2 separate regions of the Homo sapiens genome follow, and region 2 is linked to region 1. The links come from fine-mapping of genetic effects on gene expression. A gene starts in region 1. The other region holds a variant in brackets. All regions are shown on one strand. Distances are from middle to middle. Region 1 holds the start of NUP205 (nucleoporin 205). Region 2 overlaps NUP205 (nucleoporin 205).

The links. PIP is the estimated chance that this variant, and not a neighbour inherited with it, causes the effect.
Region 2: its variant is fine-mapped to the expression of NUP205 in whole blood (TOPMed, PIP above 0.99). The same link has a PIP of 0.9 or more in blood mononuclear cells.

What each region holds. Positions count from the first base shown.
Region 1 is chr7:135,553,046-135,561,390 of GRCh38, reverse strand. NUP205 (nucleoporin 205) reads right to left here and starts at 3,474. Exons shown (of 43, transcript NM_015135.3): 1 at 3,419-3,474. The coding sequence starts at 3,446. RefSeq lists enhancers at 2,764-2,883, 2,954-3,013, 3,074-3,123, 3,504-3,633.
Region 2 is chr7:135,577,952-135,586,296 of GRCh38, reverse strand. It overlaps NUP205 (nucleoporin 205), which reads right to left. Exons shown (of 43, transcript NM_015135.3): 6 at 8,273-8,345; 7 at 7,382-7,546; 8 at 1,290-1,465. Among named protein-coding and RNA genes, the nearest start is that of NUP205, 24 kb to the right of the region's middle. The variant G/A (reference allele first, on the strand shown) is at 3,229.

The DNA of each region.
Region 1 (8,345 bases):
AAATACAAGCATAGGTTTTTTTGTTTGTTTTTTGTTTGTTTGTTTTTAAGACAGAGTCTCGCTCTGTTGCCTAGGCTGGAGTGCAGTGGTATGATCTCGGCTCACTGCAACCTCCTCCTCCTGGGTTCAAGCAATTCTCCTGCCTCAGCCTCCCGAGTAGCTGGGATTACAGACACCTGCCATCATGCCAGGCTAATTTTTGTATTTTTGTAGAGACAGGGTTTCACCATGTTGGCCAGGCTGGTCTCGAACTCCTGACTTCAGGTGATCTGCCCACTTCAGCCTCCCAAAGTGCTGGGATTACAGGCATAAGCCACCACACCTGGCCAACCATAGGTCTTAGAACTCTACAATCTCTGTATTTTTTCCTTACAACTCCAAGATGTTTGATTTTTTAAAACTGTAATTTAAAGGAAGCACATAACATAGAATGCAATCTCAACAAATTTTAAGTGTACAGTTCAGCAGTGTTCAGTGTATTCACATTGTGCAACAGATCTTCACAGCTTTTTTCATCTTGCAAAACAGAAACTCTATGCCCCCTAAACAACTCCCCACTTTCCCCTTTCCCAGCCCCTGGCAACCACCATTCTACTTTCTGTTTCTATGAGTATGACTACTTCAGATACCTCATATAAGTGGAATCATGTAGTATTTGTGTCTTGTGACTGGCTTATTTCACTTAGTATGTCCTCAAGTTTCATCCACGTTGTTTTATGTGACAGGATTTCCTTCCTTTTTAAGGCTGCATAAGGATACTATATATATGCATGTATACGTTATGTTATGTATATGCATGTATATGTATTATGCATATTGCATGTATATGACACATTTCCTTTACCCACTCAACCCAACATTCATTCCTTGATGGAAAAAGAGTTCCTTCCCTAAGACGTTTAGTTTTTTAAAAAACCAGCTCCTGACTCTTGGCTTTTAAAAATGTTTCCTATGTTGCCAATTAAACACTCCTGACACAAGGCTTTATTATACAATGTACACTCTTTGCTGCTGTTGGCAACTCCTTTTCCCTCCAATGATTTGTTTAATAATTATAATAGCTTAGGGCGAGTATGTACTAAAGGAATGTATATAGGCCAGGCACAGTGGCTCACGCCTGTAATCCCAGCACTTTGGGATGCCGAGGTAGGCGGATCACCTGAGGTCAGGAGTTTGAGACCAGTCTGGCCAACATGGTGAAACCCCGTCTCTACTAAAAATACAAAAAAAATTGGCCAGGCGCAGTGGCTCACACCTGTAATCCCAGCACTTTGGGAGGCTGAAGGGAGTGAATCACGGGGTCAGGAGCTCGAGACCAGCCTGGCCAATATGGTGAAACCCCTTCTCTACTACAAATACAAAAAATTAGCTGGGTGTAGTGGCGGGCGCCTGTAATCCCAGCCCCTCGGGAGGCTGAGGCAGGGGAATCGCTTGAACCCAGGAGGCGGACGTTGCAGTGAGCCAAGATCGTGCCACTGCACTCCAGCCCGGGCAACAGAGTGAGACTCCATCTCAAAAAAAAATTAGCCAGGCTAGCCAAGCATGGTGGCGGGCGCCTGTAATCCCAGTTACTTCAGAGGCTGAGGCAGGAGAGTTGCTCCAACCCAGGAGGTGGAGGCTGCAGTGAGCCGAGATCACGCCACTGCACTCCAGCCTGGGTGGACAGGATGAGACTCCATCTCAAAAAAAGAAAAAAAAAAAAAAGGAAAATAAATGTGTATACCTTGCGTACTGGCTCACACCTGTAAACCTACCACTTTGGGAGGCCGAGGCAGAAAGATCGCTTGAGGACAGCAGTTCGAGATCAGCCTAGCCAACATGGAGAAACCCCACCTCTACTAAAAATACAAAAATTAGCCCAGCGTGGTGGCACATGCCTGTAATCCCAGCTACTCAGGAGGCTGAGGCAGGAGAATTGCTTCAACCTGGGAGGCAGAGGTTGCAGCGAGCCAGGATCGCGGATCGCATCACTGCACTCCCGCCTGGGAGACAGAGCAAGACTCCATCTCAAAAAGAAAAATTAAAAAATAAAATAAAATAGAGAAATGTATTATATACAACCACACGTTAAGCATATCTAATTGGGAAGGAAGGACCGCAATATTAAGCATGTAACTTCATTACTAACCTTCTAATATATACGTCTAATATCATAAAATGAATTAGGTTGTGCTTAAGCAGTAGCACTAAGTAGTTTAAGCACCTAAGACTGACTTAGATCATTAGATGTTTAACTCTGGGGACATTACGTAACTATTTGAAGCCTCTATTTCCAAATCTGTAAAACGGAGTATGTAACAGTAACTACTCCAAAGGTGTATAAACGGGAACTGAATGAGATAAGCACGATAATAAGTGCAATGCTGGGATATAGTATGTGTTCAGTAAACATAGCCTTCATTATAATTTATCATAGCTTTTCTGAAATGATTTGATTTACAAAACAGATTTAGACAACTTTTCAAGAATATCAGTCCTGTGGAAAATAGAACCAATACTTTAAAAAAGAGTCCTTTTAAGTGAGATTCTCACAAGCATTTACCACACAGATATACTCTTAATCTTGCCCGCGAACTTCAGAGCATCTCAATCGAGGCATTAACATTCTAGGCACCAAATTATTTTTCCGGACTGCTCTGACCATGAAGGACTTTCTGCATCCTTGCCCCGCCTACTATGCGACAGCAGTGTACCCCAGGAAATATGACAATCAAAATGCACTCACTCATTCAAACACCACTGGAGGGCGGTACGGCCCGAATTGAGAATCACCGAAAGAGGATCCACCCCAAATCTTCCAGAGTTCCTTTACTACCTTCTAGATTCAATTCCACCCCGAAAATCTACAGCTCCAAAGGTACAAGAACATCCAGGGCCTAACCACATCCGCAGGGTTAGAAGACGTCTGCTGAAGCCCCGCCACCCTCTTCCTGACCACCTTTCAGATGGCCGACTTCATAATAGGGAGTATTCGCTGCCTGCAAGATCTCCCACCCTATAAGGAACTCCGACGCCTACTTTCAGCCTCTGCTCATGGCTGGAAAATATCTCGGGTCCTCTGGCTTCACTGTGGAAGACCTGATGCGTATTCCAGCGAAATCGGGACCACAGACGCACAGTGAAACTTGGGGGTGAGGGGGACCAGACTCAGCCCTGGGCTGTGAGAGATTACACACCTGGGTCCAGCGGCCCAAGCCTCACTGCCTGGAATCTCAAACCCCAACTCGAGGGCTGGAGCCGCAGCACCGACGCGCGCCATTCAAACTGGGGAGGGGTGGGACTCTAGGCCCAGAATTAGGGAAAAGCAGGCACCGCACATAAGTGGGGTCCTAGACTCCGAGAAACCTCACGGTCTCGTCTCTCCATGAAGACCTGGTTATCGCTCAGCTCAATCGTCTTTCTGTCTGGCCACACTTACCCGAATTTACCGCCAAAGGCGTCGCCATCTTAGAGGCGCACTAACAGAGCCCTTCTGCCGCATGGAGGCCCCGGGAAAGGGTGAGGCTGACCTGAGCGAAGCCTGAACAAAAAGGCACCACACTGTCCCCTCCACGCTGGGCCGTCCCAGGCGTACAAAAGGCTCCAGAATCTGCTCTGGGTCACAAACATCAATTTTCATTGGGATTATTCCCATTCAAATAAGGCGAGGGCAACCACTTCAGAGACACGAGGTCCTCGATCCGACGTTCATCGTGTAGTGCATCCTGGGACTTGTAGTTTCTAATGATGAGTTGGTTAAGTGGAGAGGAAAAAGTAAAGTGGAATAGAAAAAGATATTCTGAGAGTAGTTATTAAAATGACGCCCATTTATGACATTATAAAAGCCGTAAATTCAAATCATTATCTCCGCTTCAAGTTAAATCTTCCTTACAGTGGGGAGTGAAGTAAGGTATGAAGTGTCTACACCTCAAAAAGCCACTGACCGGTTACAAACTAAGTTTCCGTGACATTTCAGTTTACCAAATATATTCTGTCAACATAGTTGCGTAGAGCGAAACAAATCATAATTTTTAATTATAAAATTTTCAAACGGATACAAAATTAGAATAGCAAACACTCAGCATCAATAACGTGGCCAATTTCCCACCACGGCAGCCCCAACCCACCCTTACCACCCCAACACCCTCCCCTCCCCACCCCCCGCCCCCGATTAGTTTGAAACAGATTCCAGACATATCGTTTCATAATCACCAAGTATTTTTCTACCTGAGCACCCAAAGTAGCTGAACTCTTTCTTCAGCTGTTAAATTTTAGTTTGCTGATTTTCAAACTAAAATGTAAATAATCATTGCTATTTACAGCTATGTATTAAGAAAAATTTTATAGCCATTATCTCATTTAATCCCTGCAAACCATTCTATTGGGAAAATGATATGATTATAACTATTTATGTCAGAGACGCTCCATGTGCCTTACAATCTCATTGTATTAACTCTCCATCATTCCCATTTCACTGTTGGAAATCAGAATCAAATAATTTAGACAAAAGCATAGAGTATGTTAAGAATATCCAGAACTGGCAGGGCGCAGTGGCTTATGCCTGTAATCCCAGCACTTTGGGAGGCCAAGGCAGGCGATCACTTAAGGTCAAGTGTTTGAGACCAGCCTGGCCAGGAAGGTGAAACCCCGTCTCTACTAAAAATACAAAAATTAGCCAGGCATGGCGGCACGCACCTGTAACCCCAGCTGTTCGGAAGGCTGAGGCAGGAGAATCCCTTGAACCCGGGAGGTGGAGGTTGCAGTGAGCTGAGATCATACCACTGCACTCCAGCCTAGGCAACAGAGTGAGTGAGACTCCATTTAAAAAAAAAAAGAATATCCAGAACAGAACATTTATTCTTTTGAACAAATAATATCAAGTGACACAATGTACATTAGGTTTGAAACACAAAAATCACTGGTGATTTTTTCTAAAAGTCATTGATATATAGAGACAAATGCCAAACTACGATTAAAGTGGTTTTAAGGAGTGAAGTGGGGAAGAGAGAAAGTAAACGCAAAGGAATTTTTCAAGAAGTTTATCATGAAACTGAGAAGAATACTGAGCAGGAACTTGACAGGAAGCGGCATTCAAAGATTTCTCTCTCAGCACAGCTATTACAAGCCTTTCCCTCTCCACATGCACTTTTTAAGCCCACACGCTTCCCTCTCAGTAGATAACTTTGCTTTCTATAAAGTAACTCTTTAAATTCCAGCAACTCCTCTTCACCTGTCATTACACTTTACAAGCATTCTCTCACAGGCTTCTTCAATTCGTAGCAATTGGGATATTGCCATCATAAGCCCCTCTAAAACTGCGCTTGGTATGTTTACCAGTTATCAGTCATCAAATTCCATGGGCACTTTTCTGAATTATGATAGTTATAGGCCGGGTGCAGTGGCGCACGCCGGTAATCCTAGCACTATGGGACGCTGAGGTGGGAGAATCACCTGAGGTCAAGAGTTCGAGACCAGCCTGGCCAACATGGTGAAACCTTGTCTCTACTAAAAATACAAAATTAGCTGGGCGTGGTGACAGGACTCCTGTAATCCCAGCTACTTGGGAGACTAAGGCAGGAGAATCGCTTGAACCCCAGAGGCAGAGGTTGCAGTGAGCCGAGATCGCACCATTGCACTCCAGCCTGGGTAACAGAGTAAAAACTCTGCCTCAAAAAAAAAAAAAGAAAAAGAAAAGAAAAAGAAAGAAACAAAATTATATTATCCTGTGGCTACTGGGGCACCAATGATACTGGTTTTCCTCCTCTTTCCAGTTCTTTTTTAGTGTTTTACGTGGACTTCTCTTCCTCTTCTACCCACTAAATCTAGCTCTTCCCCTATAGTCATCTCTAGTTTCTGTCCTTTTCATTCTACATGCTTTCTGTGGGACATCTTATGGTTTCTTACTACCACCTGCTTGCTGATGAATTCTGTGTTTGTATCTCTAGTCCAGTCCTCTCTCTTGAGCTTCATATTTGTAGAACCAACTCTCTACTTCATATCTGTATTGATTGCCACACAGGCGTTTCAAAACCAACATGTCTGAAACGTAAATGATCACTTTTCCCCTAAAACTCTGCCACCTGTATCCCCACCCAGTTGCCAAAATCGGAAACCTGGGATTCTTTCTGTATTCTTCCTTCAATTGTCAAATCCTGTTCATTCTACCTCACAAATATTTCTGGAACCCTTTTCCTCTTCTCTGCTTTCTATGCCATTGTTCAAGTCTCATCTTCTTAAACTTGGTATTTTGCAATAGCCTTCTCATTTGTCTTTCTTATTTCCATCTGATCTTCCTTTCATGGACTCCTAAGGTGATTTTTATTTTTTATTTTATTTTATTAATTTATTTCAAGACACAGTTTCACTCTGTCGCTGGAGTGCAGTGGTGCAATCTTGGCTCACTGCAGCCTCCACCTCCCGGGTTCAAGCGATTCTTGTGCCTCAGCCTCCTGAGTAGCTGGGATTACAGGGGCATTTCACCACACCCGGCTAATTTTTGTATTTTTAGTACATGGCGGGGGGCGGGGGTTTGCCATGTTAGCCAGGCTGGTCTCGAACTCTTAACCTCGGCTTCCCAAAACACTGAAATTACAGGCATGAGTCACTGTGCCCAGCCTGAAAGTGATTTTTAAATACAAAAAAACATGACCGGACACGGTGGCTCACGCCTGTAATCCTAGCACTTTGGGAGGCCAAGACAGGCAGATCACCTGAGGTCAGGAGTTCGAGACCAGCCTGACCAACATGGAGAAACCCCGTCTCTACTAAAAATACAAAATTAGCTGGGCGTGGTGGCACATGCCTATAATGCCAGCTACTCAGGAGGCTGAGGCAGGAGAATTGCTTGAACCCGGGAGGCAGAGGTTGCGGTGAGCCAAGATCACGCCATTGCACTCCACCCTGGGCAAGAAGAGTGAAACTCTGTCTCAAAAAAAAGGAAAAAAAAATATGGCCAGGCGCAGTGCCTCACACCTGTAATCCCAGCACTTTGGGAGGCCGAGGCGGGCAGATCACGAGGTCAGGAGATTGAGACCATCCTGGCTAACACGGTGAAACCCCATCTCTACTAAAAATACAAAAAATTAGCCAGGTATGGTAGAGGGCACCTGTAGTCCCAGCTACTCAGGAGGCTGAGGCAGGAGAATGGTGTCAACCAGGGAGGCGGAGATAGCAGTGAGCCGAGACCGCACCACTGCACTCCAGCCTGGGTGACAGAGTGAGATTCTGTCTCAAAAAAAAAAAAAAAAAAAAAAAAAAAAACACATGATGTGGTTGTTCTGATCAAAATTTCTCAATGATCTTCTATTACTAAGAGTTATTACTAAGAGTATCATTTAAAATCTTCTTAGCAAGGCACTCATGACACTTCCTGATATGGTTCAGCCTCGTTCTTCAGCCTTCCACACTCTTCCTCAAGAGCCCTTTACTCTAATCATTCTGAACTATTTGTTATCCCCAAATACAACATGCTTTCTTTTGCCATGTATCAATGTCTTTGCACCTGCTATTCTGTCCTCCTGGACTGCCCTTCCTTCCCTTCCTTATTCACCTGTGACCACCCACCAAGTTAACCTCCAAACATGATCTGCTCTCCAAGTCTCAGGGCCTGTGTTAATGCTGCCTTCATGATGCTGTCCTTGATCCCCTGCCCCATCAAATTCGGGTGTTTCTTTGCCTGCAGACCTATTGCACTTTTTCCCATCTTTATTACGTCCCAATGTGCTATGACAATTGTCTCCTCACTAAAACTGTTAGCTTCTTGTGGTAGATTGTTATTAAAAGGCCCTCAGTGAATCACAGGTCCCTGAATTGAAGCCATTGTGTAATCATCTGCCACATTGAATCTGGGTTGGCCTTCTGACTTGCTTGGACCAGGAGAATGCAGAGGAAGTGATGTTGGGCACTTCCAAGCCCAGGATTTAAGAGACCTTGTTACTTCCTTTTTGCTCTTTTGCCCATGTAAGGAAACTCGAGCTTGTCTTTTTGAGGACGAAAGACCATGAGGAGAGAGGCCTAGCCAACCCTTAGCCATTCCAGACCCTAGCTGAAATGTTGAACATTAGTGAGGCTATTTTGGATCCTCAGTACTAGTTGATCCACCAACTGACTGTAAATGTGTGAGTCCAGACCAGATTGTAGAATTGTGAGCAAGTAAATGGCTATTGTTTTAAGTCACCGTTTTGTGATTTGTTATGCCCAAGAAATAACTGATATACTCCTAGAAAGCAACAGCTGTGTGTTTTTATATTTATATTCCATGCTCCTACCACATCTCTGGCTTGCAGTTACAATTCAGAAAAATAATTTGCAGAGCTTGGTGCTTCCACTGCCTACTGGGAGAGACCACATACAATTGTGATGAAGTG
Region 2 (8,345 bases), 25 kb before region 1:
TTTAGGAATTAAAGAGAAAAATCACTATAGATCCTATAAAAATAAAAATAATACAAGAATCCTAAGGGCAAATTTATGATAATCAATTTATACTTTTCAGGAGGTATGGTACCAAAACTGCACAATATATTACAAGTGTAGACCTTTCAGGGTGCTTTTAAAAACTGTACATTTGAAATAGGTGGTTTTATAATATAAACACAAAAAAAGACGTTTTTCTCCCTCATTTACTTCCCGCCAACATTTGATGGCTTCTTTGGCACAAAACAGCACACAGAGCATATACTATAAGGAACTGTTTGAAATAGCTCTAAGAATCGCTTTTCAGATGACAGTTACAGCTCAAGCTATCTATTCAAAAGCAGCCTTTGTGTTACGGTTTCTTAAATTCATTATTTTACCTGTATCCATGCTGAAGCCCTTTTATACACTGCAATTCAGAATCTAAACAATCGGGCCAGGCATGGTGGTTCACACCTGCAATCCCAGCATTTTGGGAGGCCGAGGTGGGCAGATCACCTGTTCAAGACCAGCCTGGCCAATATGGTGAAACCCCATTCTAATAAAAATACAAAAAACTACCCAGGTGTGGTGGCGGGCGCCTGTAATCCCAGCTACTTGGGAGACTGTGGCAGGAGAATCACTTACCCAGGAGGCGGAGATTGCAGTGAGCCAAGATCACACCACTGCACTCCAGCCTGGGCGCAATAGAGCAAGACTCCATCTCAAAAAAAAAAAAAATCTAAACAATTATCTATAAAATGCAATTTTTCCACTGTGCCTCTTCCAAATCATGTATAAAAATATTAAATAAAGCAACCTTAGCACTAATCCTTAGGGCAGCATGAGGTTAGTAATTTTCTACCCACAGAAGCATTTTCATTTAATTACTTTCTCATTTATAAACCATTCACTATGTCAAATATTTCTTTCTACTGACTTATCCCCAGTTAAGAGGACTTATTTCCATAGAACAACAGCAAAATATGTCTTCCCTTCAGGTGTACATAGAACATTTACCAAGACAGGCCATATTCTGAGCCATAAAACAAACCTCAACAAATTTAATACAACTGAAATTCTACAAGGTATGTTCTCATATCTTGTAGAGACTCATGACTTATTTCATGAGTCACAAACTGATTCACAAGATGTAATACAGCTACTGGCAAATTTTAGTCTGTATTAAAAATTTTTATTAGTTTCCAAAACATAAAGCTGGTTAATCAGTTTTAAATTATTTTATAAAATTCTTCTACTATTTACTCATCCTACATTATTACACTTACCTTCATTGGCATAAGTGCAAGGAAATCTGTGATGAGATTATGGACTCTGCGAATATAAAATTCTTCCTGATAAAAGTATTCTGATACCACTACAGATTCCATGAGGAACAGGAAAACGTTGTCAGCAATTGCGAGTTCTGCCATTGCTTCATCTGCCTCTGTGAATTCTGCCAGAGCTAGAAACAGATTTTAAAACACAGTACATGGAGGAAAAGTCATTAACCCAGATTGTAATTATATCTCATAATACTCTGCTGATGGTTCAGACATCTTCCCAGCCTTCTAGCATGTGCTATGCACAAAATGAGACTATATATAACTGTAATTGACTCATAAACCCTAAAGAACTCACAAACCCCAAATAACAATATACTCTGAATGTGTATTAGAAAAATACATACTCTTTGAAATAATAACATAACTAATGAAAATTATTTTAGAGATGTGTGATGCAACACTGATGTAGTCAGGGAGCTATCATCCAAACATTCACATATTAAAATGATGTTAAGACTTTAATCCCAATGAAATCTCATGGGTCATCTGAAAAGTCTTCAATCCAAGACCAAAACCTGAACATGAATAGGTAAGTAACTGTGCTAATTTGGTAACCAAGTAGCTAAAATTTAAAAACTAAATTTTAACTTGAATATAAACTTGTCTAACTGTAATTTTTTTATATTTTATTTGGAAAATATCCAATATATATCTAAAAATAAGTATAATAAACCTCTACATACCCATCACCTGTTTCAATACTACCAACTTATGGACAATCTTACCTCATCTATATCTTCCCCCTCTCCACTCATACATATCTCATTAAAGCAAATTCCAATTTAACATTTTACCAGTAAGTATTTGCAGTGTACAACTCAAAAATATACTTAAGAAACAAGGCCGGGCAGGGTGGCTCATGCCTGTAATCCCAGCACTTTGGGAGGATCACCTGAGGTCGGGAGTATGGAGAAACCTCATCTCTACTAAAAATACAAAAAATTAGCCGGGTGTGGTAGCGCATGCCTGTAATCCCAGCTACTGGGGAGGCTGAGGCAGGAGAATCGCTTGAACCCAGAAGGCGGAGGTTGCGGTAAGCCACGATCACGCCATTGCACGCCAGCCTGGAAAACGAGCAAAACTCCGTCTCAAAAAAAAAAAAAAAAGAAAGAAAGAAAGAAAGCAAAAGTAAAAATTCACTACATACTCACACACAACACCATTATCGTATCTTTATTTTATTTTATTTTTTGAGACAGGGTCTCGCTCTGTCACCCAGACTGGAGTGCAGTGGTACAATCTCAGCTCACTGCAACCTCTCCCTCCCAGTTCAAGCAATTCTCAGGCCTCAGCCACCCAAGTAGCTGGGATTATAGGTGTGCGCCAACACACCTGGCTAATTTTTGTATTTTTAGTAGAGACAGGGTTTCAACATGTTGGCCAGGCTGGTCTTGAACTACTGACCTCAAGTGATCCTCCCATCTCGGCCTCCCAAAGTGCTGGGATTACAGGCGTGAGTCACTGCGCCTGGCCATTATCACATCTTTAAAACTAATTCCTCAGCTGGGTGCAGTGGCTTGATCTAGAGTAACTTAATCTGACTTACATTCAACTTTCTATTAAGAGTATGTCATAGGTTATGGTGTATCTTTCCATCAAGAAACATATTGCTGATTACTGCTCTTAAATTTTGAATATAAAATTACTAGGTAATTGTGTGGCAATCTGGCTTTGAAAAAGACTACTACACAGCTTATTCTGTTTGACTGTCATACAAACCAAATACATAGTCTGTTACCGTAAGTACATTTTCATTGCCTTGAAAAGGGCCAGGAACAGATAAAAGCCAAGATAGTCTCAAACAGAGGAAAACATATGATTTGTAGTATTTCATTTTTATTATTTATTTATTATTTATTTCGAGATGGAGTCTCGCTCTGTC[G/A]CCGAGACTGGAGTGCAGTGGCACGATCTCAACTCACTGCAACCTCCGCCTCCCAGGTTCAAGAGATTCTCCTGTCTCCGCCTCCCAAGTAGCTGGGACTATAGGCACGCACCACCACGCCTGGCTAATTTTTTGTATTTTTAGTAGAGATGGGGTCTCACCATGTTGGCCAGGATGGTCTTGATCTCTTGACCTCATGATCCACCCGCCTCGGCCTCCCCAAGTGTTGGGATTACAGGCATGAGTCGCCATGCCTGGCCTGTTTTTTTAATGTTTTGTTTCGTATTTTGAAATAAAGTCTGCATTATCAGCCAGGTGTGGTGGCTCATGCCTGTAATCCCAACACTTAGCCAAGACAGGAGGATTGCTTGAGCCCAGGAGTTCAAGACCAGCCTAGGCAACATAGTGAGACCTCATCTCTACAAAAAAATCAAAGAATTAGCTGTGGTCCCACCTACTTGGGAGGCTGAAGTGGAAGGATCATGTGAGCCCTGGAGGTTGAGGCCACTGAGCCATGGTCACACCACTGCACTCCAGCCTGGGCAACAGGGAAGCCACTATCTCAAACAAACAAAAACGTGCTTATCTACCCATATTATACAAAATCCTTGAGAATAAAATATTGTCTTAATTCTTTGGTATGACTAGTAATAACAATTACTAAAATTACTAATTATTAAATATTTTCAGTAACAGTAACAAATTATTTCAAACCTTTACTTGAATTCAAAAACACCAGAATTAAAAGAGAATCAACTCAAAGATTACGTCTTTTATTTTTTTTGAAACAGAGTCTTACTCTGCTGCCCAGGCTGGAGTGCAGTGGTGCGATCTTGACTCACTGCAACTTCTGCCTCCCAGTTTCAGCCATCCTCCAGCCTCAGCCTCCTGAGAAGGTAGGATGACAAGCATGTGCCACCACACCCAGTTAATTTTTGTATTTTTAGCAGAGTCAAGGTTTCGCCCTGTTGGCCAGGCTGGTCTTGAACTCCTGACATCAAGTGATCTGACTACCTCAGCCTCCCAAAGCACTGACATTACAGGCATGAGCCACTATGCCCAGCCAAAAATTACTTCTTGAAGACCATTTAGGCAATAAGGCATCATTGTCTTAATATAAATTGAGTTTCAATGCCTAAAAACAGTATGCTAAAATTCTGTAAAGCTTAGTGAAATTACAAAAATGCTTGGTTTTTTTGTTGATTTTTTTTTTTTGGAAACAGAGTTTCACTCTGTCACCCAGGCTAAAGTGCAGTGGCATGATCTCAGCTCACTGCAACCTCTGCCCACTAGGTTCAAGCAATTCTCCTGCCTCAGTCTCCCAAGCAGCTGGGATTACAGGCACGCGCCACCATGCTTGGCTAATTTTTTGTGTTTTTAGTGGAGATGGGCTTTTACCACGTTCGCCAGTCTGGTCTTGAACTCCTGACCTCAAGCGATCCACCTGCCTCATCCTCCCAAAGTGCTGGGATTACAGGCGTGAGTCACCACACCCGGCCGATGCTTGTTTTTTTAATTTTTTTTGAGATGTGATCTCACTCTGTCACCCAGGCTGGAGTGCAGTGGAGCAATTTCAGCTCACTACAGCCTCTCTCCTGGGCTCAAGTGATCCTCCTGCCTCAGCCTCCTGCGTAGCTGGGACTACAGCCAAGGGCATGTCACCACACTGGGCTAATTTTTAATTTTTTGAAGAGATGAGGTATCACTACATTGCCCAGGTTTGTCATGAACTCCTGGGCTCAAGCAATCCTCCCACCTTGGCCTCCCAAAATGCTGGGATTATAGGCATGAGGCACTGCACCTGGCTTCATGCCTTTTATAGAATAATATAATAAAAACATTTGATAAAAGTTTCAGAAGTCTATGAAGAGAACAGAAACCAATTTTTCAAATTGGAGATCTTCGTTAAAACTTGTCTGGATTATTTCAAGAAGTGACCATTTCTGCAAAATAACACAAGCTAGTCATTTTTTCTAACAATTTTTAAAATGCAAATTAACAGAAAAATTTTTATAGTTTAAAAATTCTAATTATAATACCCCTAACTATTAAAGCTTATAAAAGGATATGAGCATATAAAATCAAAGAGATTAAGTAGCCAAAGATCTGGGACTTGAAACTAGGGCTGTGATTCCTAACCTATTTTTACTATTATTCTACAGCAAACTATAGCATATTCTATTAAACCTTTCAAAACTAGTGCAGTGGTATGGGCAATTATAGCATAAGATTGTGACCATATTACATAATATTATAATAACTATCTATGTATAACTATATTATATAGTTAATATATTAACTATCACACCTGGGCATGGTGGCTCGCGCCTGTAATCCCAGCACTTTGGGAGGCCAAGGCAGGCAGATTGCCTGAGCTCCGGAGTTCGAGACCAGCCTAGGCAACCCGGTGAAACCCTGTCTCTACTAAAATACAAAAACTTAGCTGGGTGTGGCGGCGTGCGACTATAGTCCCAGGTACTCCGGAGGCTGAGGCAGAATTGCTTGAACCCAGGAGGCAGAGGTTGCAGTGACCTGAGATCATGCCACTGCATTCCAGTCTGGGCAACAGAACGAGACTCCATCTCCAAAATAAAAAAAGAAGATATTAACTATCACATAGCCACTTCAAAGGTTAAAGGGTAACTTTATGTCAGAAAAGTAGTGAAATAAGACTTATAAATGATGAGGGTACGTACAGGTGAGAAACAGAATTTGTACGGGAATGTAAAAGTCTAATTCGCTATCAGCATTTAGATATATAGATGACAGACAGATAGAAATTAACTGGCCAAAGAAAGACTCCTAACACAAAAAAAGCTTTCTGCAAACACCTTGGGAACAGCATGACACTAGTGAAAACAAAATGTTCTGGAATTACACGATTGATAAGATACTAGAATCTGTTGATACTTTAGGATTAGAAAACTGACATAAATTGTAAACTTGAATAAAGCCTTTCTAGATTTACCATAAAAAGACAATTCTTTGGGCTTCGTGTTCCATGTATGGTTCTCATTCTGTTAGAATAAACCCCTACTAATATGACAATTAAATAATGTAAATGTAAATAGCAGAATAATATATGCTACAGTGAGTTAACAGGTTGTTAAAAGTCAGTATTCTGGTCAGGCGCGGTGGCTCACACCTGTAAACCCAACACTCTGGGAGGCCAAAGCAAGTGGATCACCTGAGCTCAGGAGTTCGAGACCAGCCCAGCCAACATGGTGAAACCCTGTTTCTACTAAAAATACAAAAGATTAGCCGGGTGTGGTGGCGTGTGCCTGTAGTCCAATTACTTAAGAAGCTGAGGCAGGAGAATCACTTGAACCCAGTAGGTGGAGGTTGCAGTGAGCCGGGATCGAGCCACTGCACTCCAGCCTGGGCCACAAAAAAGAAAAGTCGGGATTCCACATCTGTTCTTGACTGATCCAAATATCTCCTTTTTAATACACTGTATGGAAAAATAACTGTTTTTAATTTGACACAATGTGAAAAACTAGTTTGTGAACAAATCAAGAAGTAAAATATATAAAAATAAAAGGAATAGTATATTTTAATTTTAAAAAACATTTAAGGCCGGACGGGGTGGCTCACGTGTTGCAATCCCAGCACTTTGGGAGGCCAAGGCAGTCGGATCACCTGAGGTCGGGAGTTCAAGACCAGCCTGACCAACATGGAGAAACCCCATTTCTACTAAAAATACACAATTAGCCAGGTGTGGTGGCGCATGCCTGTAATCCCAGCTACTTGGGAGGCTGAGGCAGGAGAATCGCTTGAACCCGGGGGGCAGAGGTTGCAGTGAGCCGAGACTGTGCCATTGCACTCCAGCCTGGGCAACAAGAGCAAAACTCCATCTCAAAAAAAAAAAAAATTAATGTGACACTGTCATTCCAAATTTTAAACTCATACCCTGAAGGTAAAAGAGCATTGTCAGTGGCTCCAAGAATGGGAAATAGTATTTCATATGATATTTTTGAGAGACAAGGAGAAAAAAGTCTGTATTTCACTACTACACTAAAGGTTTCATTTAATACAACTCTGGATATCTTCCTATGCTTATGCTTATGTATGTCAAAGATAATACTCCTTCCAAAAATGTCATTAAGTGCTAACATGCTGTTTCTCATAACAAAATTACCTACAATCAATTCACCTGTCACATCAGGTAGCTGGGATATTCCCCTCAATGCCAGCGCCCAGGCAAGTCTAACAGTGGCTTGGAGCCCAGGCAGTTTCCAAAGCTGTGAGTCCTGAAGACGAGAGTGAATTGTTGCAATGTACTGTTTTTCTGTCAACAGTGGAAGTTGATGAATCATATCTGAAAACACAAAAATAGACCACTTTACCGATCACCAGATAAATTCTCACTTCTGATACACAGGAATAATATCCAAAAGTCAGAAAATCTGAGCATTCTCACAGAAGAATAATGACCAATTAACATTAATTTCTACATCCCAAAAGGTACACTACTGTTGATTGTACACATACTAAAAACAAAAAAAGAAAATGACAATAATCCTAAATTTCAATTTCACTATTTTCAGTCATTTTTATAAGTGTACTACAAATAAACAAGAAAAAAGTTAGACACTCATTTTTTCTGCACATAAATTCTAAAATAGAAATCATGCTATCTAAAGATCACAAAAATTTTATTTACTTCACAGAAAACACAGATCAAAGATTACATTACTGAAATGACAGTCACTGTCTCAGAATGTTTTAATAAAAAGTTTGAAAATGTAAATGAATGGTAAAGAAACAAGCAATTAAGTAAATTAGGCATGTGCAATCATGAACATGTATAATATATGCTTTAATACTTTCCATTCCAAATCCCCCCAAAAAACAGAAATAATTAACAGGACTGCAGCTGTTTTTTAAATGTGATCTTATATATAAATATTCAAATATGAACGGACTGCAAACACAGGAACAGAGCAGACTATTTTAGTAGCTAAAATATCACCCTTTTTAAATGTTATCCCCACAATTTTAAATCTGATTTTTTTAATGTAGGAAAATGTATAAAACTCAATACCATCTCGTTCCTCTGTGCTTTGCTCTATAAAACTGATATCAAAACAGTATAGAAGCGCCATAAGAAGAGCCAG